Homo sapiens: one gene and its partners. The protein of the gene in region 3 purifies or fractionates together with the protein of the main gene of each other region. This does not show direct contact. Each region holds a gene or a part of one and is shown on either strand. Other genes may lie near its edges. The genes, in order: CDC40, HNRNPC, CCDC12 and BUD31.

Region 1 (7,450 bases), on a different chromosome or scaffold from region 3:
GGTTTGCTATTTCAAAGTCAATGTTTTCTTACAGGTATTTTATAAATATACCAAGGATACCAGGCAGCCCCACAATGTAGCCTCAAGAACTACTTAGAAATGTGGCTGTGTAACACTACTCCCGTTTTTTAATCTTAAAATTTGTTCCTTGTTTAGGACAAAATATTTCCAGCTTGTGACTCAATATTTAAATATTCATTCCAGTAAATATTTCACTAAAGCATCACTTTTATCGTAACTTTTAGGAAGGAAATCTGTCCTGGATATGACAAAAAGGCTGCAATAAGGAAAAGGAGCCAGATGGTAACCACCTAAGTCCAGTAACAATGTGATCTTGAGACTTTTTATGCTGAAATATAACCCCACTCATTTATGTACTCTAAAATGTTGTGTAGTCATGACTTAGTGCCACCACTAAATGAATATGGAATGTGTTAATGTGCTCTGAGGGTACTGCCATGTATTTTATTATATAATTATAAACCCACTGATATACCTGAATAAACCACATCCACCTCTAAAGCATTATTTCTCTCCATATGACCCATTTAAAACTGCAAATGGCTTAATCTAGTGTCTCAATACACTTAAGACTCAAAAGGAGACTAAAGATGAACAAGATGAACATTTTGATAGCACTTTCTACAAAAAATGCTTTATTTAAAAATATGATCTTTTTAAAAAGGAGACTTTTATACACACTTACTTTAGAAACAGTCAAAAACACAACAGAATCAATCCAGATTTAGAAATGATGATTTGTAACATACAATATTGGTATGCTGAACAAGACAGTTTAAATGTATGATTCTTTTTGTCCCTTCACATTTCAATAATTCACATTTGTTAAAACTAGTGGTTGGGACTAAAGAAAAGGTCATATCTGAATCCTTTCCCCTTCAGAAATCTGTCACCCTTCTGGGCAGTTACAGAAATGGCAGCAGCTAGGCAATGTTTGTATTTCTTTGGGTGCCTCTGTGTCAAAAAATATATCTCCGCTTTTATTCTTTTTCTATGAAATTTATATTTATGTGGCTATAGGGCCTGGTCGTATGTCCCACGCCTTTTAAAATCTAAATTTCTAAAAACAGACACTCCGTAAGGGCAAGGAGCATACACTGCTATGACCTCACTGGACTCAGAGCTTAATGCTCTTAGGTTATCAGCAAGAGACATGATTTTGATCTTCCAGTTAGCACTCCAAGCTGCTATCAACCAACCTTTTTCAGCACGGTAGTGAAATATTTCAAACCATATTCAAACATCTAATATAGATTTATAATAAAACAGGAAAAATGGCTTGCCAAATTAAAGTGCTATGAGCTATTACATTCAAGAGGTTATCTTGATTTTATTTTTTGAGGTGGAGTCTCGCTCTGTCGCCCAGGCTGGAGTGCAGTGGCATGATCTCAGCTCACTGCAACCTCCACTCCTGGGTTCAAGCAATTCTCCCTGCCTCAGCCTTCTGAGTAGCTGGAATTACAGGCGCCAGCCACCAAGCCTGGCTAATTTTTGTGTTTTTAGTAGAGACGGGGTTTCACTATGTTGGCCAGGCTGGTCTTGAACTCCTGACCTCAGGTGATTCACCTGCCTCAGCCTCCCAAAGTGCTGGGATTACAGGCATGTGCCACCGCGTCCGGACTATCTTGATTTTATAATCTGATGTTTTCAAAAACTATTTTTCACCATGGCCACTGCTTCTCAAACTGGGGAACCCTAGCCATCTTCCAGGAGTGTCATTTTTTTTTTCAGACATAGAGGTTTAAAAATTTTTTAATCTTAAAAAGTTCTGTTGTATATATTCACAGGTAAAATAAGAATAATTTTAAAGATAAAACATATGACTTCAAAGAAATTACAAGTTGACATCTTGGACTCTACCCCTCGTACTTTATCTCCTATGAGGAGGATTTCAGTAATCACAGCTGCGAAGCAATGACCTAGGAGATCCTGATTTCTCAAAGCGTAGCCAGGTCTTTACTGACAGTGAATGTAAATACAATTCAAAGTCTTGGTGCATTCTCCTGAGCTCCATCTTCAGATATAATGTAATTCTCTGATTAAATATATATAGTCCTGTCTATACTGATCAGGAATTAAGTCAACAAAAGAACTCTGGACTGATTTTGATTTTTCACTGTTTATAATTAGAGGAATGCTACAGTTAAAGATTACTGCTTTACAACTAAAAATATACAACATATATCATCAAAGGGAGTGGAACTCATGAAGCCAAAAGATTAAAACTTGACCCAGTGAAAATAATAGGGAGAGTAACTGTGGGTGATTTTATCCTTCTTCCAAATTTACATTAAAATATATTATCCCTATTCTTTACTGCCCTTTTGGTTGAAGAGGTAAATACATGCATTTTTCTGAATAATTAATTATAACACCTCCTCTAGAATCCCAAATCCACTAGGGATTCTTTCTTGACCCCAAAGAGATGCTTTCAGTATGTCATGAGTATAAACTCAAACTGCTTGCCAATTATAACTACTTGTCAAATAGAAAGTCAATAGCCACTTTCTGTATAAATAACATTTATAAAAAACAAAATGAAGTTGCAAATGAAATTATGTCAAATTTACAGTTTCTTTTTTTAAACAAAGGGTCAATGTCATCAACATTATCTGTAAATCAAGTTATCATCAGATACATTTAATAATTAAATATAAATATGACAATGGATCAAAAATGATCCCAGCTAGTTTAAGGATTAATCTCATTAATCCCACAATTTAATGAGACCATCCCAACCACATGTTATGACCTTAGAAGTTTCATGAGGATGCCACACTGCACCTATACACACTTTATCATGAGCTTTAAATCGACTGTAGAGTTTTGTGGTCTTCCAGTCCCAAATGTTTAATTTTCCATTTCCATCTCCTGAAATCACATAACTATAATGGGAAGAAAGATAAATTCAAATTATTAAAATACCTTAAATTGGTAAGGCGAATGAGGAATAGGGACGTTATCTTTTCACGTTAACATTAAAAAAAAAATCCAATGCAAATATACAATACTCAGAATAAGATGGTAGAACATGAAGCAGTCTATAATTTGAAATTCTATTAAAAAAACCTCCCAACCAATCTAAGAGTAGAAAATTATTTTTAACTGGGAAGACTGGGAGTCCCAGGAGCCACAGTGAATGAGGTTACACAATCAGTCTCTAGATAGTCAGAAACAGAGACTGGAGAACCAATTCCACATATAGCTAGGGAACACCTTTAGATCTATTCTATCACAGTAGGCTCTAACACTTTCATAATTACTTTTTGGCTTTAATATCTTTTGAATACATCTAAGACTGAATCAGAGGTAGGCCCAATTACTAGGCTAAACAAACAAAGTTACTGGGATTTCTAAATTACTTCTGCCTATACATTTTAACTAAGAACCATGCTGTAGGCTTCACAAATCCAGTGTGACCTAGAAATATTCAAAAGCTGGATTTGAGGTTTCAGCACAGACAAGCTGTAGTGAAGCTGTAACTGCAACACTGTAATACACAATTAATTCTTCTGGTGTTCATTCAATCATAGCAATACAGTGATTATAGCACTTCTAGTCTTGCTTAGAAAAGCAGAGAAAATAAGGCATTGGTTATATAGACAGGGATTTATTAGGTGGCTAAAGGGCATAAGCCTAAGTAATAGAAGGGAATATACTGAAGCAAGAACCTAAAAAAAGCAAAATGTAATTTTCCTAATTTGTTCTTGCCTTTATATCCAGCATTTTGACAATTTTGACAGATCATCGAGTTCTCATAAAAACATATTATGTGAGAGTGATGTGTCAAGTGTTATTTGTACAACAACAGTTTATATAATCATATTTGAATACGAGAATGGATTAGAAGATTTAAACTTACCTCATGTCTGGTGAAAAGTCCACCTGACAAGCATAGCCTGCTACCATATGGCCCTTAAAAATTTTTTTCTTATTTAATCTAAATCTGTTCTGTGCTCCAAAAATTAAGATTTGGTTGTCCATTGATTGGCATGCTAGCCATTTTCCTGTAAATTCAATAAATGAGGTATTTTAGAGGAAGACTAAAACAATTTTTAAAACTTTTTATTTTAAATATGTTCACTGTGATTAATATAAGTTTTGCTCCCAAATACTTTATAATACTAAAAAATAAATTTACTATACCACCTGTAAAATGTTATAAATATGTCACTGGCAAGAGGTATTAATATATAAACTAATGGCTTTTGCATATACGATCCTATATCATTGAGCACTCTCATATAAAAGTTTTTAAAAAAATAAGGAAATATAGAAATTCCAAGCTTAATGTTAAAGAAATAAGCTAAAAGTTGTGAAATGAAATTAATTTATAGTAAGTATAGACAACAGAACTATGGGAAATAGGAGAAAGAGACTTATCTGTGGTAATTACAGAATAAAGAAAGATTAAGGGGTGAGAAAGCCTAGGGTTATTAAATAAAACTATACAAAAAAAGATATATTAAAAATTATAGTAACTTTTTAAAAGGCTACAATGCTTTTCTCTACTTAGGATTCATCAAAGCCCCTAGAGCCTAAACTGCAGCGTCTATAGTCATGCACCACTTAACAATGTTTTGGTCAATGATGGACCGCACGTATGACAGTGGTCCCATAAGATTATAGTGCTAAATTTTAACTGTACCTTTTCTATGCTGAGATTTTACTGTACCTTTTCTATGTTTAGATACACAAATGCTTACCACTGACTACATTATTCAGAACAGCAACATGCCATACAGGGGTAAAGCCTAGGAGCAACAGGCTATACCATACAGCCTAGGGTAAGTAGACTATACCATCTAGGTTTGTGTAAGTACTCTGTGTGATGTTCACAAAATGACAAAATCACCTAACACTGCATTTCTCAGAAGTACCCTTGTTGTTAGGAATGCATGACTATACTTGCATCCTATATATAGTCATCCCTTGGTATCTGTTGGGAATTGGTTCCAGGATCTGCACCCCTACCCAATACCAAAATTCACAGATGCTCAAGTCCCTTATATAAAATGGCATAGTATTTGCATATAACCTACATATCTCCTGTATACATTAAATCACCTCTCGATTACTTATAATGCCTAATGCAACGTAAATGCTTTGTACCTAGTTGTTATGCTGTGTTGTTTTTAATTGTTGTATTGTTATTTTTTATTGTTTATTTTGTTGAATATTCTGGATTCGTGCTGGTTGAATCCCAGGATATGGTGCTCATGGATACAAAGGGCCAACTGTACATGTAAACATTACTTACTAAGGAAACAGACTTAAATAATGCCTGAGTGGGTAAATGGCCTTGTTCAAGATGGGCACAAAATCTGTAATAGGTGGTTTAAAAATACGCTACATGAAATATAGATGCACAGTGACGAAGTATATAATCTAGCAATGATCAAAAAAAGGTTCAGTTAGGTTTCTCTTCTCATAAAAATGATAGAGCATTTGACAACTATTACCATTTGCTTGTGTCAGAGGCCCTGATGGAACAGCAAATTCTTCCTTGCCCTACACTTGGAGTTAATTATGTGAATTGACAGTGGTTTCAATGACAAGGTCCCCCAAACATCAGAACTCCCACTTTAAGACTCTCATGTAAAGCTATAATTACATCAGTATATTGTCAGTATATCTGTAGCACAAATTATCTTGTACGTAAAAGACAATGGATTAAACAATATTAAATAGATTTATCTTCTTAATTTTTGCCTGAGAAAATCTTTTATAGTGAATTGCTAAAGTGTTCTCTCATTATGGAGAATCAGACCAAAACTTCCTATCCCCTGAAAGAGTTTACAGTAAATCACTATTACTATTTTTTTTTTTAGAGAGAAGGGTCTTGCTCTGTTGCCCAGGCTGGAGTACAGTCACATGATCATAGTCAATCTCCTGGCTCAACCAAACTGCCCATCTCAGCCTGACCAAGTAGCTAGGGCTACAAATGTGCACCACCATGCCAGCTGATTTTTAAAATTTTATTTTGTAGAGATGAGGTCTCTCTATGTTGCCCAGGCTAGTCTCAAACTCTTGGGTTCAAGTGATTCTTCTGCCTTGGCCAAATCATTATTAAATGATTTACTGAACGTGATTCTGTTTGGAAGGAGAATTAGAAAAGAAAACTCTGGCCGGGCATAGTGGCTTAGGCCTGTAATCCCAGCACCTTGGGAGGCTGAGGAGGGAAGATCACTTGAGCCCAGGAGTTTGAGACTAGCCTGGGCAACAAAGGGAGACCCTGTCTCGAAAAGAAGAAAAGAAAAGAAAAGAGGGGAGGGGAGAGGAGAGGAGGGGAGAGGAGGGGAAAAGAAAAAAGAAAAGAAAACTGATTGTTAAATAAAAATCTGATGTTCAATCAATGTTAGCTGTAAATCATTGTTTCTTTTATTTTTATTTAAAAAGAGACACAGAAAAGTAGGTGAGGTGACTTGCATATGAAAACCAGTAATTCTTTCTAATATTGTAAAGATTACCTTATACAAATAATGGCACAGTGACAAACTTCCCCAAGAAGGAAGGGGCCAAAGTTCTTTTGAATAAAGAAATCACACTGTATCTTAGAAGCTCATTTAAAAATACAATCTACATACTAACTCACCATTTGGAGACAAAGTCACTGCAGGCATTGAGTGCATACTGGGTTCTGCTATGTACTTGAAATCCACAGGGATATCCCTAAAAATTTTAAATAGCATATCAGAATAAGCAACTTTTAAAAAGTACCTTCAGAATTATCTCTGGAACAAAGGAATAATATGCAAATAAAAGCAAACTCTTGATATTATATATTTAATAAATCTTTCATGAAACTTTCTGGAAGAAGAAAAATCACAAGATGACACTGTACTGCTTATGGTAAATCCTGTACTTCATAAATCACTTTCCATGATCATTATAACAGTGGTGGTGATTTTGTTTTCTATTTCATTTAAACTTTGGCCTTTATGTTAAAAAATCTGTTACTGAAAGAAAGTTCTTTAATAATGTACCATGGTGATGGATACACTAAAATCTCAGAATTCACCACTATATAATTCATCCATGTAACCAAAACCCACTTTTACTCCAAAAGCTGTTGAAATAAAACCAAAAATTAAATTAAAAATGTACCATGGTAGGGTGAAGCAAGATGTCTGAGGTAAGCCTATGGGGAAGTGTTATTTACTGGCTAGCCTACCTTAACTTGAGGAGGTGAGAGTGTTAAACAGCCTGCAGCAATGCAGGTGGATGGCAGGCAAAGCTGTAGGGATCTGTGAGCTGATCTAGCCCATCCAGAAATGATGATAAATGATGATAAATAAATGCTTGGTACCTGGACTATCTTCAGTTTACATGTAAAGCATTTCAAATGTGTTTGGTGAAGGAGAAAAAACATAAAAAAAAAAAAAAAACCTCATGTGAGTGATGAAAGAATGAAAAAAAAATTAAAAAG
Region 2 (7,450 bases), on a different chromosome or scaffold from region 3:
GTGCTCTAACTTGATTCTGTCACAGTACACTGGAAGGTCAGGCATTTTGTTTAAAGAATTGATTCTAAGGCCGGGTGTGGCTGCTCATGCCTGTAATCCCAGCACTTTGGGAGGCTGAGGCGGGTGGATCACGAGGTCAGGAGTTTGAGACCAGCCTGGCCAACATGGTGAAACCCCCATCTCTACTGAAAATAAAATTAGCTTGGCGTGCTGGCGCTCGCCTGTAGTCCCAGCTACTCGGGAGGCTGAGGCAGGAGAATCGCTTGAACCTGGGAGGTGGAGGTTGCAGTGAGCCATCGCACCACTGCACTCCAGCCTGGGCGACAGAGTGAGACCCCATCTCAAAAAAATGATAATAATTGATTCTAAACTGGGGAATAGAGAGATTCCCAATTTAAAATCTTCACAGTGGTTCTCAAACGTTAGCCAACACCAGAATCAATAGGGCTAGTTAAAACAGATTGCTATGATCTCTACCACAAGGGTTTCTAATTAAGTAAGTCTGGGGTGGGCCCTGAGAGTTTGCACTTCTAGTAAGTTCCAGGTGATGATGCTCATGCATCACTCATTCTGAGAGGTGCCCCTTTAGAAGAAGGGATCCAAACCTCAGGCAGGTTTTGACAAAGAATAACCTAGAGATACTTTTTTTCTAAAACTATCTCTGAGCTTTAGGTAAGGATACTTTTTTTCTTTGAGAGCCTCACACTGTCACCCAGATTAGAGTGCAGTAGTGTCATCTCAGCTCACTGCACCCTCTGCCTCCCGGGCTCAAGGGGTGCCCTCAGCCTGCTGAGTAGTGCTGCTAATTTTTTGTATTTTTGGTAGAGGCAGGGTTTCGCCATGTTGCCAGGCTGGCCTTGAATTCCTGAGCTCAGGTGATCCACCCGCCCCAAGCCTCCCAGAGTGCTGGGATTACAGGTGTGAGCCACGCCGCCTGGCCTCAAGGAATATTCTTGATTGAAAATGGTGCTAAAGTTGGTCTTTTTATGAGTGGTAGCTCTTCAGTTTAACATAAATAACATCTTGGGAGATACTGAGCTTTTTGATATTGAAAGATAGAATTGGTTTCTTTTCACATTTTTCTTTATTTTTAAGCTTATGTCTTGTGGCACCTGTACAAAGGACTTGGTTGTGGTTGAGCTATAAAGTTATGTATCTTGAAAATTGATTACCAGGTTTGGGCTGTGGCTCCAAATAAGAAAATGAAATGTTTCACCATAACTGTATTTCATAAACAGGAAAAGAACATTCAGATGTATATTTCTTACAATTCTTCACAAACTTTTTCCGCAATTTGTACATTCATACAGTTTTCACACATCAAATGTAAAAATTAACTGTCATTCCTACACTGTTCTTTTTAAAAATGTATGGTACTTGTTGCTGCTGTAGTCATTCATGTATAGTTGGCTCAAGGAACACTTCTAAAAGCTCAATTAAAAATTTTTTTTTTGAGACAGGGTCTCTCTCTGGCCTGGCTGAAGTGCAGTGGCGTGATCAGAGCTCACTGCAGCCTCGAACTCCTGGGCTCAAGTGATCCTCGCTCCTCAGACTGCTAAGTAGCTGGGATTTCAGGCTACCACACCCTGCTAATGTTTTTTGTTTTTAATAAAGTCTCGTCATGTTTCCCAGGCTGGTCTCAAACTACTGAGCTCAAGCCGTGCTCTACCCTGGCCTCCCAAAGTGTTGGGATTACAGGTGTGAGCCACCACACTTGGCCTTAAAATATTTTAATTTCCTCAAATTTACAAAGGAGAATAAGACCTCATGGCTAAATTGAACAGTGAGTGCAGCTAGTTCATTGTTTGCACAAGGAACTACAGTCTAATTGCAGTTCCTATTTTAGCTGATGAAACAACCAGTTTGTCATGGAAATTATTTTAGTGTGGTATTATGTACCAGATTTTTAGAATCCATAACTTGAAATTAGCTTTACACGCTACATAGTAAATAGTGGACTACAGAAACAAAAGTATTAACATAAGGACCTTAATTTTTTTCACCTATTTTATGACCTTAAATATTCAGTATTTTTTTAATTCCATCTGTATTTTCGTTTTGTCAGTGAGTGGAATAATGTGCTCCTTATTTAAAACATCTTTTCCCCTAACAGTAGAACCTATTAGGTCTTGTGGTTTGATCACTCACTGGTTTTGAGAATAGATGAGTCATCTCTAGTATAGATCTTCATGGTAGGCCATTCACCTTCAGTCTATTACTCATAGCAAAAACTCCACGGACTTTTTTAAGTTTAAAACCCATGAATCTGCTTAGGTTTTATAATCTCAGTATTTGACATTTGCTCACTATTTCATCTCTATTTGTTGGCCCGGTTTTTCTGTATTTTCTTTGCCCAAACTGCTCATTATCAAGATGAACATTTGGGATATACTCTTTTTGAGACCCTCAAGGGCATATTGACATGAATTTAGTTAATTTTAGTCATCTATTGATGTTGAAGAATTGTGAAGACAGTCACTGGTAGAGGTGATTCTATGGAGGCTATCCCATCCCAGTGGAATGTTAATGCTTTACCAAAATGTGTTAGCTGCAGTAGACAGATGTTTCTGTCTTGGGGGTTTAGGGCACAACATTTCTGAGGAACTCTGACTCAATCTGTCCCTTCTCCTTTCACAGGGCAGCAAGGCGAACCCCATCCCTACTCACTGGAGCTCAGCTTTGATTTTTAACCTCCCTTCCCCACCCTTCCAGAACACACACATTCCATTCCAAAACTGATTTTATAAAGACATTTTAAACATAATGATGCAACTTGGTGTGCACTACAGCAAATGTACAGGTGTTTTTTTTTTAATTGTTTCCAAAACCGGGACCTGGATTTAAGATGTAATTTTTAAAATTTCTATTTCTATTTTTTCTGCAGCAGTTGGGTTAGAGGAGGAGGAGCCTTTTAGCCTCTCATAAACTGACCTCTCTACTTCCTCGTGTATTTTTAAGATTGATTGATGATGTGGAAAGGGCTTTGCTTGTCTGCTACTGAAAACTTTATCCTTGCGGTTTTTGTGGAAACTGCTTTTGGAAAGAGAAAAGAAATGAACTTTACTGACTTGACATTTTTGCACCTCCCGTTTTTCTAATCTGGGCTATTTTTATTTTTGTTTTTTTACAGTGAGATTTTTTTGATCTTCAGCTACAGTAAGTTATTCCAATTTTTTTTTAACATTTTTCCTGACTTTCCGCTGATTTCCTTTTTATTGTTGTTACTAGTTACTATTACTTATTATTATTATATTAATACTTATGATGGTGATGATGATGATGATAATGACACTGATGATTTTTAACCGGATTAAAATCGAGTTTTTCTGAATGTTTCTAAGAATTTCTCCGGCCTCCTGATTGACTTTGGAGTTTTGCATCTTGGGAGAGAAAGCGAAGGCATTAGTATTTTTAAGTGGTTTGATCACGTAAACCTTTTCTCTCCCAACCCCACCCTTGCCCTCATCCCCTTCCCCACACTGAAAAGAATTTTACTGGCTGTTAAGTCTATGACCTTATTTTTCCTGATCTTTAACTTAACTGTTTTAGAGCATCTCTGGACGTCTGTATTTTTAATTTTTTTTATTTTTGTTTTTTTATTTTTAATCTTTCATTTGTTAAATTTTTAAACTGTGCTGCAATAAAATGTGTGTGGTACTACTTAACACTTATGATCGTGATGGCATTTTCCCTGAAAGCCATCTTCCTCCTGTTTCCCTTGAAATCCCATCCTGCTTTTCCTGTACACTACCCCTCACAAACCACAAGCTGCAGCAACATGGATGCCCAGCCTGGAGCAGCAGCAGCCAGGATGACCTGGAGCCAGGGGGGCCTTCGGAACAGATGCACACCCTTCCTGGGTGATGGTAAGAGGTGTGAGGTCCACTTGGATTCATTACAAAGACTAGGAAATAAACCCGTTTAACAGTTTAGCTGATGTGTATAGGTCATAGCATCTGGAAGTGTTTGAAACTTTTGTGTGTGCATCTTGAGGTGTTTCCCAAGGGGGACCACCTCAGTTATTTGTAAACTAATGGAATAATATGAGTTGCTAATTAACTTGGGCTGATTAGAACATTTTGGATACTTGGAAAGAGCAGCTGAAGTTTAAAATGAAAGTGGCTTGTTTTAATGATTAGCAACAAGAAAACATATTGGGGAGTCCCTTTTTTTAGATTGTTACAAATCAGTAAACATTTTCTGTCATTTAACATATTCCTTGGGTTTGTGACATTTTTGGATTATATTCTATTTAGACTTTTTATCTCATTAATATTTCACAAGAGTCAAACCATAGGAGATACAACATAATATTAAAATGCTGTCTCACTGGAGGGCTTTTAAAAATTTGAAAAAAGGTAGGCTTTTTGACCTCACAAAGCAGGGAAATCTGTTTAACCTCTACATCCAAATTAGGAACTGTCTAAGGCTGACCCCTTTTACAGTGGTGACTCAAGACCCAGCTAGATTTTGGGAATTCTAATGTGAATTCATAGAGTTCTAATGCTAGATTAGGAACTCTAATGTGTTCTGATGTTAAGAAGGAGTGTATTCTGTGTTATTCACAGGAATGGTGTAGAGATTAGTAAAGATGTGGATAGCCAAAGAGAAGTTGAGCAACCCGTAGTATTTTACTCACTGCAGCAAAATGTTTTGATAACCATTTTAGAGTTGCTCTGATAGGTTTCAAGCTGGGAGATAATTAGATTTTATTTTAAAATATTTCTATTTTTTGTAGAGACAGGGTCTCGCTATGTTGTCTAGGCTGGTCTTGAACTCCTGGGCTCAAGCGATCCTCCTGCCTTGACACCCCCAAAGTGTTGACATTACAGGCATGAGCCACTGCACCTAACCTGGAATAATTTTTTGAAGGCATATTCGGTACTGTTGTACTAGGGTAAATCACAAACTTGCCCCCTTATACCATACTCGGATGAAAAGTGAAATCTAGTTAAAGTGAACACCAGAGGTACACTCAAAACAGAATGGGAGAAAAAGCAAAAGATTCCTGGAAGTTATCTAGAAAAAGAATGGGAATCTTTATTTTTTAAATAAGTGCAAGTTTTATTGATGCTCTCTATTGTATGAGAGCTATTTTTTCTTCTTTGCTGCTGTCAGTGTACGGAAGCTGTTCACTATAGGTTCAGTTTGATTTATTCCTTGTTAATTCTACAAATTTATTATTTTTATGGGACATGTTGTGTTTGGGGATATAAAAAATAGTTTATTATGTTTAAGGGCTTCGCAGCTTAGTGAGGGAGACACATGAATGAAATAATGTCCATATATGATGAGAGGTAAACACATATCCTATAGAAGCATGCCAAAATAAGCTGGGGGCGTTGGTACCTGCCTGTAAGCCTGTAGTCACAACTAATTGGAAGGCTGAGGCAGGAGGGTCCCTTGGCCCAGGATTTGAGAGACTGTAGTGTGTGATGTGATTATCCACTGCACTCCAGGCTGGGCAACATAATGAGACCCCATCTTTTTTTTTTTTTTTTTTTTTGAGACAGTCTCGCTCTGTTTCCCAGGCTGGAGTGCAGTGGTGCCATCTTGGGTCACTGCAACCTCCACCTCCCGGGTTCAAGCGATTCTCCTGCCTCAGCCTCCCGAGTAGCTGAGACTACAGGCACGGACCACCATGCACGGCTAATTTCTGTATTTTTAGTAGTGACGAGGTTTCACCATGTTGGCCAGGCTGGTCTCAAACTCCTGATCTCATGGTCTGCCCGCCTCGGCCTCCCAAAGTGCTGGAATTACAGGCATGAGCCACTGCACCTGGCCTTAAATTTTTCTATTTTTAGTAGAGACAGGGTTCAGTAGAGATGCCATGTTGGCCAGGATGGTCTCAAGTTCCTGACCTCAGGTGATCCACCCGCCTCAGCCTCCTGAAGTTTTGGGATCACAGGTGTGAGCTGCCGCACCCAGCGAGACCCCATCTCTTTTTAAAAAAAGAAAGCATGCAGAAATGGTTACCTAACTAACCCTGAGAGGTCAGGGAATCCTTTTTTTATTATTTTTATTTATAACTTTAAATTTATAAATTTATTCCTTCTACCTTAATCACATAAAGGGATTTTTTTTTTTTTTTTTTTTTAAATAAGACGGAGTCTCGCTCTGTCACCTAGACTGGAGTGCAGTGGTGTGATCTTGGCTCACCACAACCTCTGCCTCCTGGTTTCAAGCAGTTCTCTGTCTCAGCCTCCCGAGTACCTGGGATTACAGGCACCTGCTACTATGCCCGGCTAATTTTTTTTTTTTTTTTTTGAGATGGAGTCTTGTTCTGTTGCCCAGGCTGGAGTGCAGTGGCACGATCTCGGCTCACTGCAAGCTCTGCCTCCCAGGTTCACGCCATTCTCCTGCCTCAGCCTCCCAAGTAGCTGGGACTACAGGCGCCCGCCACTACGCCCGGCTAATTTTTTTGTATGTTTAGTAGAGACGGGGTTTCACCGTTTTAGCCGGGATGGTCTCGATCTCCTGACCTCGTGATCCGCCCGCCTCGGCCTCCCAAAGTGCTGGGATTACAGGCGTGAGCCACCGCGCCCGGCCCACCTGACTATTTTTTATTGTTTTTTTTTTTTTTTGGTGGAGACAGGTCTCATTTTGTTTCCCAGGCTGGTCTCAAAAACTCCTGGAAGATTTTAATTTTTAGGAATGTCTTTCTAATAACAGTATGGAAATGGTGTAGAGGAAATGAGATTGGAAGTAGGAGATTAATAAAGGAGATATTAAAATCCAAGAAAGAATAACGACCTGGCTTGGACAAAGGTAATGCTATGAGATTAGAGATTAGGAGGTAAAATTAGGAGCATCTCAGGATGGATGTGATAAGGTGGACAAGAACACAGATTTGGCATGATTGCTGGTTTCTAGCTTCTGGGATAGGGATAGATATTGGGGAATGAATGAAGGGAGCAGATTATAGTTTGAGGGTGGGAAAAAGAATATTTTAAACATCTTGGAGGTATTCAAGGAACATTCAAGTATAAGATGTTTTATTAAGTATCTGAGTACTATTTGAAAATCATTAGGTTTGGGCATATAGGGATGAACAAAACATGTCCCCTGCCCTCTTAGATATTATAGATCATTGAGGGAAGAAACAAAGTAAATGGCACTTTTCACAGTAAGGATCGATGAAGGAAAAGAAGAGCGTGGATGAGAAGATGGCAAGGGAACCAAAATTAGAACATGGAATTTGGGGGATGCTGCCAGGGAAGCTTAGCTACGTGGAAGTAGCTAATGGTGAAGCTCATTCTGTAAGAAAACCATATGTGAAAGCACAGATAATGAGGGGGAACAAGACTTGGCCTCCAAGTAAGAAATAATACTGGAAAATAATTACCAAGAATACATAGATGAGGGATGGAGTTAGAGAGGTAGGCAAGGACCAAACATTTCATAGCACGGGACCTTAGAGGGTCTTGTTTAAGATCCTGTCTTGGGCACA
Region 3 (7,450 bases):
AGTTCCTCACCTCTCTGTCCTGCCTACTATCCCCCAGTGCACCATTACCCTACCAGGTGGGGCCCAAACTACAAAGCAAATCACGGGGAAGTGTCTGGATTTCAGGGATGAAGGAAGTGGGGAAGCAGACCGGGATGTGGCCAAATGGGCAACACTTTACTTTTTCCCAAGATAAATGTATTTATTCACTTGTTACTTATGCAATTCAAAAAAAGTTGATAACAAGGCAAGGCACAGTGGCTCACACCTGGAATCCCAGCACTTTGGGACGCCAAGGCGGGTGGATCACTTGAGGTCAGGAGGAGTTCAAGACCAGCCTGGCCGACATGGTGAAACCCTGTCTCTACTAAAAACACAAAAATTAGCCAGGCGCAGTGGCACACACCTGTAATCCCAGCTACTCAGGAGGCTGAGGTTACAGTGAGCTGAGATTATGCCACTGCACTCCAGCCTAGGCGACAGAGCGAGACTCCATCTCAAAATAAAATAAAATAAAATAAAATAAATAACAAACATAAAGAATTAAAATGGGGACCCTCCAGGGCAAGGGCCCAGGGATCCGCAGGACTAAGAAACTTCCTGGCATGAGTGGTGTGGACGGCCAGAAGCTCCTGGTGGCTGTGCTGTTCCCACGCCATGGCAAGAGTCTAGGCAAGCCCTGGGCCAGGCCCTCTCCCCTGCCTCAGTGCTCCACACTGCCCGTCCACTGCTGTGTGTGGCTGAATGACTGGCCCCTGTCTCTGACCCACCCAGGGCCCACAGGACCCATCACCCTGCCCTGCTGCCCAAGGGCCCCATGACCACATCCACTTCTCAGCCAGGAGTCCTCTGAGAGGATGTGGCCTTTTTCAAACCCCACTCAGATCCCTGGGAGGCCTCGGTCTCAGGGTGTGAGCAGGACTGAGAAGGCACAAGAGGACTCTTCAGTGCCCCGACAGCCTCTGCTGCTGCCGAAGGCCGACTGTGTGCATCTGCCATGAGATGGTAACAAAGGGTCCTGCCTGCAGGCCCAACTCCTGTCCTGGTACTGCTGGTTATTCTCAGAGAGCAAAGCCTGCTGAGGTGGAGGGTGGCTGACAGTGCCAGGAAGCAGAGGTGGAGAGGGACAGCTTGCTTACCTGCAACCGGTTTGGCCTGGGGCACCCTCCTCTTCTTCAGGTCCTCATCCTCCGGGACATAGTTCCGCAGCCTAAGTTCCCTGCAAGAATAGAGGGAACAAGCAGAGATGAAGTCAGTGTGTGACATGGTCTCATTCATTCATTCATACAATTTGCATAGCCCGTGAATTCCTGAATTTCCTCTGCACTCTCTGGAGATAGCCTGGTAAGGAGGAGAAGCACAGAATGGAGTGTCATCAGGCAGGCCCCTTGGCACCGTCCCCTGCCACTTAGCGGGACTGGCTGCCCTCCAGAGGCCCTGTCTACTCTGTTGGAGTACGGTTCTCTTCCAGAGCTGGGCCAAGGACGCCTAGGGAGCATTCACAGGGTGTCTCTCCTGGATCATCCCATTTGACAGATAAGGGGACTGGAGGTCAGAGAGACTGTACCCTTTTCATAGGATCACACAGCAGTGGCTGCACATCTTAGCTCAAGGCAATGTATAACTCCCAGCCAGGGCTAAAGCTCCTAGGCTGAGTGATTCCCAAAAGAGAAGGCCAGTGGTCACCCACAAATTCCCCAAGTCTGGCCCCTCTTCAGAGCCTTCCTGCCCTGGGGCTCATGCCATGGAATACGCCTCAACTACTTAGAGAAAAGCATCTGGGTGTGCTGGGCCAGGGGCATGTGGCAGTGAGGAGTGACATGTGGACAGAGAAGCAGGTGCTGGAGGGCTCCAGAGGGGCGTGGCTGCCTACAGCTGTGGGAATGTGGAGGGGAGACACTCCAGGAGGAGGTGGCGCCTGGGCCTGCAATGACGCGGACAGGGTCAAGGCACAAAGCACACGAGAGGCTGACTCAGCTCCAAGACTGTTGAGAGTGGCCAGTGAGGGCTGTGAAAATAGGCATGACCATGTGCAAGGCTGGGAAGGCCACAGTCCACCAGGACAGCAGTGAGAACTGAACAGCCCCAAAGGCCTCCATGAAGAGAGAGGAGCCACAAGGGGCCAGAATCTCCCGGCAGGAGCTGCGGCTAGCTACTATGTTTTTATGTTCTTCCTGCCTCAGTCTTTTCAGGCAGGGGTGGCTGAACCAAGAACTCACTGGGGTCCTCTCTGGCTCAGGGGCTCATCAAATCCTAGCCCCACACACACAGAAGCAGGCTCCCAGGAAAATGTGTCCCTGGTAACTCCACAGGGCGGCAGGGCGAGAGGTCCTGGGGGCTGCAGGGTCTAAGAAAGGCAAGGCAGAGGCAGTGGGACAGACCCCTAGCCCCAGGGGATGCAGGAGTGGCCCCTCAGATGCTGGCCAGGTGAGACTAGGCCGCAGGTCCTCCTCCTTCCCCAGTACCTCTTTCGGTTCTTGACCAGTGGTCCCTCAGAAAAGTCCTGGGCCTCTAAGGCAGGAAACAATTTCCCAACAGGCCTCCCACAGTCTGCCATCTCCCAAGCCCTCTGTCTGGACCAGGTAAAAGTGCTGCTGACTTCCTCAGGCCCTGCAAAAGCAAGCTTTCCCAGAGGCAGGGGTGTCTGTGGCTACACAGCTAGCAAGCGGCAGTGCTTTGGACTCAGGGGCTTTCAGATGCTATTCACTCTCCTATTTAAGGGCTCCACCTGCTTCCTGCCCCCAGCTTACTTACCATCTCCTTCCTTCCTGCCAGGGCCCCTGAGCCTGGAGCCTTGGGGCTGGGCTGAACCACTGCGGGCGATGGGGCAGTACCAGCATAGCCTGTGTGGAGGAAGCCCACCTGCACTCCCAGAAGGCCCAGAGATACCCCACCCCGTCCCCCATCCTTGAACACCTGCCTCGGGCCTGGAGGTACATGTCAGGTCACAGAGGTACAGGGAGACAAAGTGGGGCATGACTGGGTGCAAAGGCTTTCGTTCACAACAGGGTGGGGAGAAATGAGGAAGAGAAACTGGGTGTGGGAAGAAAACTGCAGGGATTAGTAAGAAAAAAAACTGTCGCTTTCAGAAACGGTCTCCAGGGTTCTGTGAGAAATCAGAAGGAGAGAGGAGAGGCCACAGGGAACTGTACCCAGAACTCACAGCAGCAACACGCACCCATGCCTCCAGACCCACCCACTGCCCGAGGCTTCAGAAGGCCAACTGGAGGAGTGAACCAGAAGCAAGAGGCGGGAGCAGAGCCTTGCGCCCACTGTGCCCTGCCACCCCCAGAGCGGAGCACTGGCCAAGCAGCCAAGAACATCTAGATCCCGACCACCATGGGAAGGTCTCATTCTGGGCCTCAGTTTCCACATTTAGAAACATTACGGCTGTGCTGGGTGCATCCAGCTCTATCAAGCTGGGTCCACGCCCTCCCCAGACTCACTCTTGGAGGGTTAATCTGATGTGCAGCCACTGTTGTGTGATCGCGTGAAAATGGTGCAGTCTCTGACCTCCAGTCCCCTTAGCGTGGAGAGCTAAGAGACTTCCCCTCCCTAATGCCCACTTAACTGCCCACCCCCGGAATTCCACCACTACCAAAGGACAGGAGTCTCTGGGAGAGGTCAAGGAGCATGGGGGGGTTCAGCTTGGGGACCTGGCCTTTCCAACACAGGCCCAAGATTTAACCTCCCTTATAAAAGCAGGTGGATCACTTTAGGTCAGGAGTTTGAGCCCAGCCTGGCCAACAGGGCGAAACCCGGTCTCTACTAAAAATACAAAAATTAGGTGGGTATGGTGCCACATGCCTGTAATCTCAGCTATTCAGGAGGCTGAAGCAGGAGAATCGCTTGAACTGAGGAGGCAGAGGTTGCAGTGAGCTGAGATCGCACCACTGCACTCCAGCCTAGGCTGCAGACTGTCTCAAAAAAAAAAAATGTATATATATGTATTTTAAATGGCTTTAGAGAAGTACCAAGACAGCAAGGATTTCAGGGGCTGCAATCATGGAGATAAGGGAAGTACAACAAAGTGAGCCTGACATCACGTCCCTCTTTCCCCTTAAAGCATGTCTATTTACATGCAGCAGCTGAAAAGCTGAGAGACTGAGCAGAGCTTCCCATTAGGTTGATGCAAAAATAACTGTGGTTTTTGCCATTGAACATAGTGGCAGAAACCACAATTACTTTTGCACCAACCTCATATAATCTCATGGGCCTGGAGAGAAAAAAAAAAGTGTGTTTAAGCAGAAACTAAAACAGACTACTGACTTCTCAACTGCAACTATGGAAACCATAAGACCATGAAATGGTATCTCAGAAGTGTGGACAAAATAAATGTCACACAAAATTCTAAATCTAGTTAAGAAGCCTTCAAGAGAAAGACTTTTTCAGACAAAGAAAGGTTAGGAGAATCAGTTATCAGTGAATCCGTTATTCAAGAAATACTAAAAGGAATACTTTAGGCTAGAGGAAAATGATCTCAGACGGAAACATGGAATTGCAGGGAAAAAATAAAATGCCTCAGAAAGGGTAAATACAATGGCTTGTGTCTGTAATCCCAGCTACTTCGGAGGCTAAGGCAAGAGGATTGCTTGAGCCAGGCGTTCAAGGCTGCAGAGAGCTATGATCACACTCTGCACTCCAGCCTAGGTGACAAAGCAAGACCCTGTCTCAAAAAAAAAGCAGGGGGAAAAGAGAATTTAAATGAATATTGACTGTATAAAAGAGTAATAACAACTTATAGTATTTAAAATATAGCAACAATAGTGTAAAAGGCAGAGTGGCAAATAGCCTTAAAGTGTTCTAAGGTCCTAAGCACTGTAGAGGAAATGGTAAAAATACTACTATTTTCTATTAGACTTTGATAAGTTAAGGATGTATGTTGTTATGCCTGTGGAAATCACTAAAAGAAAGGGAAAACAGCATACAATTAACAAGTTAACAGAGGAAGAAAGTGGAATAATTAAAAACAAAAAAATCCAAAAGGAGACAAGAATGGAGATAAAAAAGGAAAGTCAAGAAACAAATAGTAGGACAACAGGTTCACACACAAAGCAGGTCCAGGCTGCTATCCTAGGAGCTCCCATAGCCTTACAGTGTCCGGGGCCACCACAGCTCTTGGAGACTGGGCAGGGTGTGACGAGATGGTGCCAGCCAGAGCAGTAGGGCAGGCCAACACCTAACACCTTGTCAGCTGGCCAGGAAATACTGAAGCAGCCTGCACTCACCAGCAGTCACTGGCATCTGGAAGCCACCTTTCTGAGGACAACTGGAGCCAAACAATGGTTCTGCCACCCCCATTTTAGAATGAGGAAGTTGCTAAGGGGAGAAGGTACTAGCTCTAGCTAAAAGAAAAGAAATAAAAACAACAAAAATGTTGACAGTGGTTATCTCTAGGACTGACTTTTTTTCAAGAGATGGGGGTCTTGGCTGGGCATGGTGGCTCACACCTGTAATTCCAACACTTTGGGAGGCCGAGGCGGGTGGATCACCTGAGGTCAGGAGTTCAAGAACAGTCTGGCCAACCAACATGGTGAAACCCCATCTCTACTAAAAAAACAAAAATTAGCCAGATGTGGTGGCGGGTGCCTGTAATCCCAGCTACTCAGGAGGCTGAGGCAGGAGAATCACTTGAACCTGGGAGGCAGAGGTTGCAGTGAGCCGAGATGGTGCCACTGCACTCCAGCCTGGGCGAGAACAGCAAGACCCCATCTCAAAAAAAAAAAAAAAAAAAAAAAAAAGAGATGGGGGTCTCCCTATGTTGCTCAGGCTGGACTTGATCTCCTGGGCTTAAGCAATCCTCCTGTCTCAGCCTCCTGAATAGCTGGGACTACAGGCATGAGCCACCATGTCCAGCTCTGAGTGATTTTTACTTGCTTCTCTGATTTTCTGTAGTTTCCGGAATTTCTAATCAGTATTCTTCCTACACAGAAACAACCAACGAAGTACTCAAAAACATAAAGAGGAAACAGGCAGAGGGGCCATAAGGCAGCAGAAGACTGTGGCAGGGTTCTGAGTCAGGCAGCACCAGCACCTCAGCTCTGCTGGTGGCCAGTCTCTGTGGCTTAGGGCCAGGCTGTCCCCTAGCCAAAGGGAAGCAGAGACCAAGCCATGCTTTTTTGGGGCTTTCTGCCCCCAGAGTCTATGGGAAGGAGGGCAGCCCAGAAAGCCCAATGGCTTCTAAGACACTATCCTTTGCACCAAATGCCCTAGGCCACCCAAAGTCCACCCTATACCGGCAGCCAGTGTCTGGGTGGAGCTTTGCTGTCTCTCCACAGGAGCAGACACATCAGCCACCTCAGTGCCTCCACTGGCCCTCCCTCTGACTCAGGGACCCCAGTGTCCCCAAAACAAGTCTAAGCTTCTTCACGTGGTCCTGGCCCCACAGCCTGCTCACCCCCTCAGCTACACACTTCCCCGTCCATCACGCTTAAAGAGCCAGCTCCAGGAGGTGGCCCTGTGGGCCCCTCCCAGTGTCCCTACTCACCCTGAGGCACAGTAACCGCCCTTCTCCTGGGCCCCCTTTGCCCCACTTGCCTCTCTACCCTCTCCACAGCAGGCCCCACTCCATGCACGTGGCCCTGTGTCGGCTGCATGTCTGTCTTTCACAGCCTGCCCTAAATGCACCAGGCAGCTCCAGGAGGGGCTCAGCATACATTGCCTCAAGCTGGATAAAGGAATTCAGAAGGCACTCAAGAAAGAGCTTTATGGGTAGCCTGGGGCTCTCTGAGCCTTTCAATGACTTGAGAAGACATTTGGAAGCAAAGAAGTTGTGCCCAGCAGAGAGGGCAGGAATGTGGCTGGGCCGGGGCAGCCAACCCCTAAGCAACTTCTTTGTGGCAAAGCAACAGGGAATGCCAAGTTTGCATTCCATAGAGTTTCCTTCTAAAATGGGTAGCTGACCTTTTCTATTTACTTTACTCTGCTTCAGGCCAGCTGCAGGAGCCCGGGACATGGGCTGGCCAGGGAGGTTCAGGGGAAATCACCCCTAGGGTGCTTTTTCACATGTGCCAATGAGAGGAAGCAGGTGGAGAAAGTTGATGTTCTCTGTCAAGTATAGAACCAGAGTAGAGTTCTAGAATGGCGAAATGAAAGGAAGCTTTGAGATTATGAATCTGATCCAACCCCATCACTGGCAAACTGGCCTCAAAGCCTACACTGCTCATGGGGGTTTCATGGCCCCTGGTCCACTTCACTCACTCATGCTACCAGGCTTATCCTTTGGGGCGCTAGCCTCCCTTCTCATCCCTTATATCTTGAGGCTACTCCACATTCACCTGCTGCCCTGGGCCCCTGGAGGGAGGCAGAGAGGATAAGGACAGGACAGTCCCACATGGCCTGTTCCCTGAGAACAAGGTCCTCCACCTGGCCACCCTGGTCCCTCCTGGCCATACAGGCCCCATCAAGGGCCAGAGAGAGAACTGCTGTGAGGCACTCCTCCTAGTAACAGACCACAGGGAAGGCCACGCCC
Region 4 (7,450 bases), on a different chromosome or scaffold from region 3:
GCAACGGAGGAGGACAGTGAGACGATGCCACTGCGCCACGCTCGCCCCTGCACACTCACATATGTGGCAACCCTCCCACGAAGGACCTGCCACCATGCCATATAGGGACACACCTCAGAAACCCTTCCTTGACAGCTCTGGACAGGGAAAATTTGGCTCCCTCATGAAGGTAGAACCAGCTGCTGTTGACACCGAGGTTACATCTGTATGTCTATTTATAATATGTTCTGCAAATCCAACACACGTTTGCCAATCAAGAAAAAGAAATCGGTGTGAATGAGTCTCGTTATTCTGCTAAGTGAGCATGACAGACCCTGCGATGAGCAGACGTGGCTCTGCTACTGTTTGGGGACTTCAGGGGGGCCTCTGGGCTGGTACACTCTGGTGGGGGAAGAGGGCAGGAGACTATGCACTTGAGTCACACCCTTCTGGCCCAGAGCCCCCCAGAAAGAAGGGTCTTGTCCCCCAGGCCTGGTGCGGCCCAACACTTGGCCAGCCAGAAAGCCCTAGAACAGTGGCTTGTGTTTATTTTACTTTTTCAAGTTCTTTTTTTGGAAGAACAAGACCATAGTTTAAGTAAACAGGATCCTCTGGTGAAACCCAGGTAAGTCTACAGCGGGCTGTTTTGGCCACAGGGCTGAAGCAGCACCCCAGCCCACCAGCCCCTGACCTGGACTCCTTGTGGAATCTGGGCACTCAGAGGAAGGGGGCTTCTGCCACTCTGCCACCTGTCCCTGCCTCCATCAGAAAACCAACACCCCAGTCTTCCGTCGGGGAGGCGGCCCTTGCTCGCCCCCACTGCTCAGTACCCAAGTCCTCAGCATCCAGCCACAGCTCTCCATTGTCAGTCTCACTGCAGCATAAAGGGGACTCATGTGAAGAGGCCCCTGTGTGGAGCTGGGGAAAAGAAGGCCAGGCTGGCAGATGGGCGGTGGGGCCAACAACTGTGCTGAGGGGCTGCACTGAGCGGCCACTGCTGTGACTCTGCCTCGGGCCACAGCTGCCTTTCAGAGGGGCTTGGAACCGGATGGAGCTCAGCTCCTGTCCCTCAGCACCACTCCTGAGGCGCCTGGCCTAGGAGTGGTACTTGGAACAGAAAGTTCTGAAAGAAGAAACACAGTGGGCTGGGCGCAGTAGCTCATGCCTGTAATCCCGGCACTTTGGGAGGCTGAGGCGGGTGGATCACCTGAGGTCGGGAGTTCGAGACCAGCCTGAGCAACATTGAGAAACCCCGTCTCTACTAAAAATACAAAATTAGCCAGGCGTGGTGGTGCATGCCTGTAGTCCCAGCTACTCAGGAGGATGAGGCAGGAGAACCGCTTGAACCCGGGAGGTGGAGGTTGCAGTGAGCCAAGATGGCATCACTGCACTCCAGCCTGGGCGACAAAGCAAGACTCCGTCTTGGGGGGGCGGGAAAGATAGTGATGGTAATGTTAAAGTATCACTGTGAGGACTGAAAGGGACAGGAACTCACTGGTTGTCCTTCCCTGATGTCACCCTGCCACCACCTTGGGATTAGGGCTCCCCACCACCATTTCCTAAGTGAGGAAAGGGGTTCAGTAATTTGCCCAAAAGTGGAGTTGAGATTGACCCCAGACCTAACAAACACACAGCCACACGCTGCCTCACATGGATTCCTGAATACAGGGACCCACTCCCACGAGGGAGAGCCAGCAGGACATCCAGGGACAAAACGACATTCCAGCCCAACCAAATAACATAAGATCCCTTGCAGTCGACTAAGGCAGAATTTTGAGCTGAAAACAACACCAAGCTTGAGTGTCAGACATTACCACTTCCAGCTTGCTTTTGGGCACGCGGCAGATGCAGTTCGTCCCGAAGTTGGTGTCCCGTGTCTGAATGCACCGCAGGCAGCACAAGTTCTCATATCCTTGCTTTTTCCATTTTGCAATCAGGTTTTTGTCTGCATAGCCTTCTTTAATACAATATTCATAGAGTTCTGTCAAAAAGATGGGGAAAGAGCATCAGGCCATGGTCTAAAAACCTTCCCCACCCTTGATCAAAAAAAGCATTCAGGCCGGGTGCAGTGGCTCACACCTGTAATCCCAGCACTTTGGGAGGCCGAGGCAGGCGGATCACCTGAGGTCAGGAGTTCAGGACCAGCCCGGCCAACATGGTAAAACCCCGTCTCTACTAAAAATACAAAAATTACTCGGGCGTGGTAGCAGCTGTAATCCCAGCTACTTAGGAGGCTGAGGCAGGAGAATCACTTGAACCCAGGAGGCGGAGGTTGTAGTGACCTGAGGTCGTGCCACTGGACTCCAGCCTGGGTGACAGCGAAACTCCATCTCAAAAAAAAAAAGGCATTCAGTATTGCAACGGGACAGTCCTTGGAGGAGGAACAAAAAAAAAAAGTACTTAGGCCAGGCAAGGTGCCTCACACCTGTAATCCCAGCACTTTTGGAAGCCAACGCCAGAGGATCATTTGAGTTAAGAAACCAGCCTGGGCCAAGGGCCCATCTCCACAAAAAATTTAAAAATTAGCTGGGTGTGGTGGTGCACACCTGTAGTCACAGCTACTCAGGAGGTTGAGGTGAGAGGATCCCTTGAGCCCAGAAGGTTGAGGCTGCAGTGAGCCATCATTGCACCACTGCACTCCAGCCTGTGGAACAGAGCAAGACCCTGTTTCAAAAAAAAAAAAAAAAAAAAAGCCAAGAGCGGTGGACCACGCCTATAATTCCAGCACTTTGGGAGACCGAGTCGGGTGAATCACCTGAGGTCAGGAGTTCAAGATCAGCCTGACCAATATGGTGAAACCCCATCTTTACTAAAAATACAAAAATTGGCCAGGTGTGGTGGCAGGTGCCTGTAATCCCAGCTACTTGGGAGCTGAGACAGGAGAATCGCTTGAACCCAGGAAGTGGAGCTTGCAGTGAGCCAAGATTGCGCCACTGCACTCCAGCCTGGGTGACAGAGTGAGACTCCATCTCAAAACAAACAAACAAAAAACAAACACACACACAAAACTCAGCCAACGTTGGCTCCCCCTAATTTTCGTGGTAAGAAAAACCATGACTTGCACAGGTTGCGAGAATAAGGATTGTGGTTAGTTCAGTAACTCCAAAAGTGACGCGAGCTTCAAAGTCCAAGAGAGACTGACTAATTACCTCTGCTGATGGCTTTCCGCTTGTAAAAGAGGTCGAAGATGTAGCGGGTTTTCTGGTGGTGGATCCTGAAGATGGGCCACAGAGATTCCACTTTCCTCTTTCCCTCATGCGGTTCTGTTTCAGCTGGGGAGAAACAAAGAGTGTGTTTGGGGGAATAGGGTCGGTCTGCGCAGGATTTTCTTTTTGTAAGTAACTACTGATAATGAATAAATACCACTTTATACCCACTAGGATGGCTGTGGGTGGCAAGCCACCCAGGTGCCGAGGCAAGAAACCGAGGGCACGAGCTGTTCTAGTATAATAAAATAAATAAAATAAGAATAGTTATACTAGATATAGATCTTAGATATGATTATATATGAATATCATTAATCCTTAGTTTGTAGCAATTACTCTTTATTCCAATATTATAATAATCCTCACTCGACAATCATAACCTAGGAAACACCAGGCTATACAGAGATGGGAGCTGAGGGGACATAGTGAGAACTGACCAGAAAACGAGTGCAAGCCTTCTGTTATGCCCGGACAGGGCCACCAGAGGGCTCCTTGGTCTAGCGGTAACGCCAGCATCTGGGAAGATGCCCGTTGCCAAGCGGACCTTGGTCTAGCAGTAGCGTTAGTGTCAAGGAAAAACACCCGCTACTTAGCAGACCGGGAAAGGGAATCTCCCTTTCCCCGGGGGAGTTTAGAGAAGACTCTACTCCTCCACCTCTTGTGGAGGGCCTGACATCAGTCAGGCCCGCCCGCAGTTATCCAGAGGCCTAACTATCTCCCTGTGATGCTGTGCTTTGGTGGTCACGCTCCTAGTCCGCCTTCATGTTCCATCCTGTACACCTGGCTCTGCCTTTTAGATAACAATAGCAAATTAGTGAAAGTACTAAAAGTCTCTGATAAGCAGAAATAATGGCATAAGCTGTCTCTCTCTCTCTGCCTTGGTGCCAGGCAGGCAAGGGCCCGCTTTCCAGTGGACACGTGACCCATGTGGCCTTACCTATCATTGGAGATGGTTCACACTGCTTATCCTGCCCCTTTGTCTTGTATCCAATAAATATCAGTGCAGCCTGGCATTTGGGGCCACTACCGGTCTCCGCGTCTTGGTGGGATTCCCAGGCTCAGCTGTCTTTTATCTCTTTGTCTTGTGTCTTTATTTCTACGCTCTCTCGTCTCCACACACGGGGAGAAACCCACCGACCCTGTGGGGCTGGACCCTACAGATGACTATAATCAAAATTATGGCACAATAACAAGTGTTGGGAAGGATGTGGAGAAATTGGAACTCTCCTACGTTCCTGGTGGGAATGTAAAATGGTGGAGCCACTGCAGAAGAGTTAGGTGGCTCCTCAAGAAGTTAAACAGGGCTGGCCGGAATCGGTGGCTCACACCTGTAATCCCAGCACTTTGGGAGGCTGAGGTGGGCAGGTCACTTGAGGTCAGGAGTCTGAGACCAGCTTGGTCAACATGGTGAAACCCCATCTCTACTAAAAATACAAAAGAATTAGCAGGGCATGGTGGCGCATGCCTGTAATCCCACCTACTTGGGAGGCTGAGGTGGGAGAATCGTTTGAACCCAGAGGCGGAGGATGCAGTGAGCTGAGATCACACCACTGCACTCCAGCCTAGGCAACAAAGCAAGACTCCCGTCTCAAAAAAAGAAAAAAAAGGGAATGAAGTAAGTACTGATATATTCTACAACACAGATGAACCTTGAAACATCAAACTAACTGTGGCAATGGTCGTACAACTTTGTGAATATACTAAAAACCCCTTAATTGGATAATTTAACAGGTTCACTTTTACAGTATATGATTAATATCTCAATAAAGCTGTTATTTAAAAACAGAATAAGCCGCCGGGCATTTTGGGAGGCCAAGGTGGGCGGACCACGAGGTCAGGAGATCGAGATCAGCCTGACCAACGTGGTGAAACCCCATCACTACTAAAAATTAAAAAATTAGCCGGGCGTGGTAGTGCACGCTTGTAATCCCAGCTTCTCAAGAGGCTGAGGCAGGAGAATTGCCTGAACTCGGGAGGTACAGGTTGCAGTGAGCCAAGATCGCACCACTGCACTCCAGCGTGGGCAACAGTGTGAGATTCCGTCTCAAAAAAAAAAATAAAAAAATAAAAAATAAGCTAAGTAATTTAAACATAATTGTTTTAAATTAAAAATGTCTATTTTTGGATCCTTTTGTAATTCATGAGTGTGCTTGGGTGTTCACATCCATGTGTGAGACATGCCACTCTCAAACCTTGTCACAACGTTGGCACATTACCCATGTGACAAGAAAAAAAGTCTTTTTAATTACAGAATTAGAAAACATAGATTTTTAAAGACATTTAATGGTAACTTCTGTTAAAAGGTTGGTCCCGGCTGGGCACAGTGGCTCACGCCTGTAATCCCAGCACTTTTGGAGGCCGAGGTGGGTGGATCACTTGAGGTCAGGAGTTCGAGAACACCCTGGCCAACAGGGCAAAACACTGTCTCTACTGAAAATACAAAAATTATCTGGGCATGGTGGCACATGCCTGTAATCCCAGTTACTCGGGAGGCTGAGGCACGAGAAGTGCTTGAACCTGGGAAGCAGAGGTTGCAGTTAGCTGACATTGTGCCACTGCACTCCAGCCTGGATGACAGATGACCCTGTCTCAAAAAAAAACAAAACAAAACAAACAAAAAAAAGCCAAAAAACCAACCTTGGTCCCTATGCTTTCAGATCTATTTCTACAGCGTAATAATTAATCAAGATAATTCTAGGCCCACAGATGGGCATCCTAATCATCTTGAAGGCACTTCTAATTTCATCTCCCAGCCAAAGTCCTTTAGGGCTGAGGAAAAGCTAAATAAACTAGACCAGTCTACAGGTTCTGAGGGAAGTAGCCACAGCAGAAGCTGCTCCTTCAACACACGCAGGATCAGGTGGCACTCATACTTGCCGCAAGGCAGTTCTCTCTCTCTCAGCAGTCACAAGTTCATCTTTGTCTATGACCTCCTCAGTTTTTAGGGAAGAACAGAAGGGCGAAGAGTGGTCAAGAAGACTATCCCTCCCTGTCTCCAGCTTTTAAGCCATTCTATTACCTAGGAATTACAATTCAGCTCAACAAACAGAATGCTGTGATCCAAGCAGAAAAGCAGGTAGTAAAGATTCAGCAGGTACACATGTTAAGACGTGACTTGCTCCTCCTTGGCCTCTGCCATGATGGTGAGGCCTCTCCAACCACATGGAACGGTAAGTCCATTAGATCTCGTTCTTTCGTAAATTGCCCAGTCTCAGGTATGTCTATCAGTAGCGTGAAAATGGACTAACACACCCCCATCTCTACAAAAAATTAGCCAAGCGTTGGTCGGGCGCGGTGGCTCATGCTTGTAATCCTAGCACTTTGGGAGCCTGAGGCGGGTGGATCACAAGGTCAGGCGATCGAGACCATCCTGGCTAACATGGTGAAACCCCGTCTCTACTAAAAATACAAAAAAAAAAAAAAAATTAGCTGGGCATGGTGGCGGGCGCCTGTAGTCCCAGCTACTCCAGAGGCTGAGGCAGGAGAATGGTGTGGACCTGGGAGGCGGAGCTTGCAGTGAGCGGAGATCGCGCCACTGCACTCCAGCCTGGGTGACAGAGCGAGACTCCGTCTCAAAAAAAAAAAAAAGAAAAAAAAGAAAAGAAAACTTAGCCAAGCGTGGCAGTGGATGCCTGTAGTCCCAGCTGCCTGGGAGACTGAGGTGGGAGGAACACCTGAGCCTGGGAGGTGGAGGCTTCAGTGAGCTGTGATTGAACCACTGCACTCCAGCCTGGGCAACAAAGTGAGACCTTGTCTCAAAACAAAAACAAAAAGAAAACAGAACAAAGAATACTTCTGTCTGGAGGTAAAGAATATCTAAACACAAAGTAGGGTTCCTCCTTCCCTCAAAAGTCACCCTTTAGAAGATGAAGTTAATTTACTTTCAAGGACTTGCAAAATCTCTTCTATTCCAGCATGCTCCCATTTCCTTTATTTTGATAAAGAGCTGTTTCGGGAAGACATCTCTCAGCCCAAAATGACCGTGATTACTGCAATAGGCCCATCCAAATCTAAACTGCAAAACAAGTACTGAGTATTTAATAGAAGTTATCTGGTACGAACAGTTTTTTTAAAAAGGGGCAAAGTAATTTAACATTGATTTAATTTAGTAATTACTGCTGGAGGTACGACCTCATAATAACCATGATTAGGTTAGTTACAAGCAAGCATTTCAAAAGCTACTTTAAAAAGTAACTTCAGCTGGGTGTAGTGGCTCATACCTGTAATCCCATCACTTTGGGAGGCCGAGGTGGGTGGATCACTTG

What was found.
Region 1: the proteins of CCDC12 (region 3) and CDC40 purify together in Homo sapiens (affinity purification with mass spectrometry; 2 studies listed by BioGRID and IntAct, with this or other methods). This does not show direct contact.
Region 2: the proteins of CCDC12 (region 3) and HNRNPC purify together in Homo sapiens (co-immunoprecipitation; 2 studies listed by BioGRID and IntAct, with this or other methods). This does not show direct contact.
Region 4: the proteins of CCDC12 (region 3) and BUD31 purify together in Homo sapiens (affinity purification with mass spectrometry; 2 studies listed by BioGRID and IntAct, with this or other methods). This does not show direct contact.

The regions. Positions count from the first base shown.
Region 1 is NC_000006.12:110,225,410-110,232,859, reverse strand, and holds the end of CDC40 (pre-mRNA-processing factor 17), read right to left. Parts: intron 6,694-7,450; coding exon 6,617-6,693; intron 4,029-6,616; coding exon 3,884-4,028; intron 2,907-3,883; coding exon 2,729-2,906; 3' UTR 628-2,728; downstream 1-627. UniProt on the Homo sapiens protein: Required for pre-mRNA splicing as component of the activated spliceosome. Plays an important role in embryonic brain development; this function does not require proline isomerization.
Region 2 is NC_000014.9:21,259,017-21,266,466, reverse strand, and holds part of HNRNPC (heterogeneous nuclear ribonucleoproteins C1/C2), read left to right. Parts: exon of another isoform or gene 1-74; intron 75-918; exon of another isoform or gene 919-3,130; 5' UTR 3,131-3,156; exon of another isoform or gene 3,157-3,873; intron 3,874-7,450. UniProt on the Homo sapiens protein: Binds pre-mRNA and nucleates the assembly of 40S hnRNP particles. Interacts with poly-U tracts in the 3'-UTR or 5'-UTR of mRNA and modulates the stability and the level of translation of bound mRNA molecules. Single HNRNPC tetramers bind 230-240 nucleotides.
Region 3 is NC_000003.12:46,924,338-46,931,787, forward strand, and holds part of CCDC12 (coiled-coil domain-containing protein 12), read right to left. Parts: intron 1,199-7,450; coding exon 1,119-1,198; intron 1-1,118.
Region 4 is NC_000007.14:99,411,939-99,419,388, reverse strand, and holds part of BUD31 (protein BUD31 homolog), read right to left. Parts: intron 7,445-7,450; exon of another isoform or gene 7,406-7,444; intron 7,201-7,405; exon of another isoform or gene 7,094-7,200; intron 5,412-7,093; exon of another isoform or gene 5,311-5,411; intron 3,252-5,310; coding exon 3,129-3,251; intron 2,651-3,128; exon of another isoform or gene 1,961-2,650; coding exon 1,794-1,960; coding exon of another isoform or gene 1,740-1,793; exon of another isoform or gene 228-1,739; coding exon of another isoform or gene 216-227; exon of another isoform or gene 1-215. UniProt on the Homo sapiens protein: Involved in the pre-mRNA splicing process. May play a role as regulator of AR transcriptional activity; may increase AR transcriptional activity.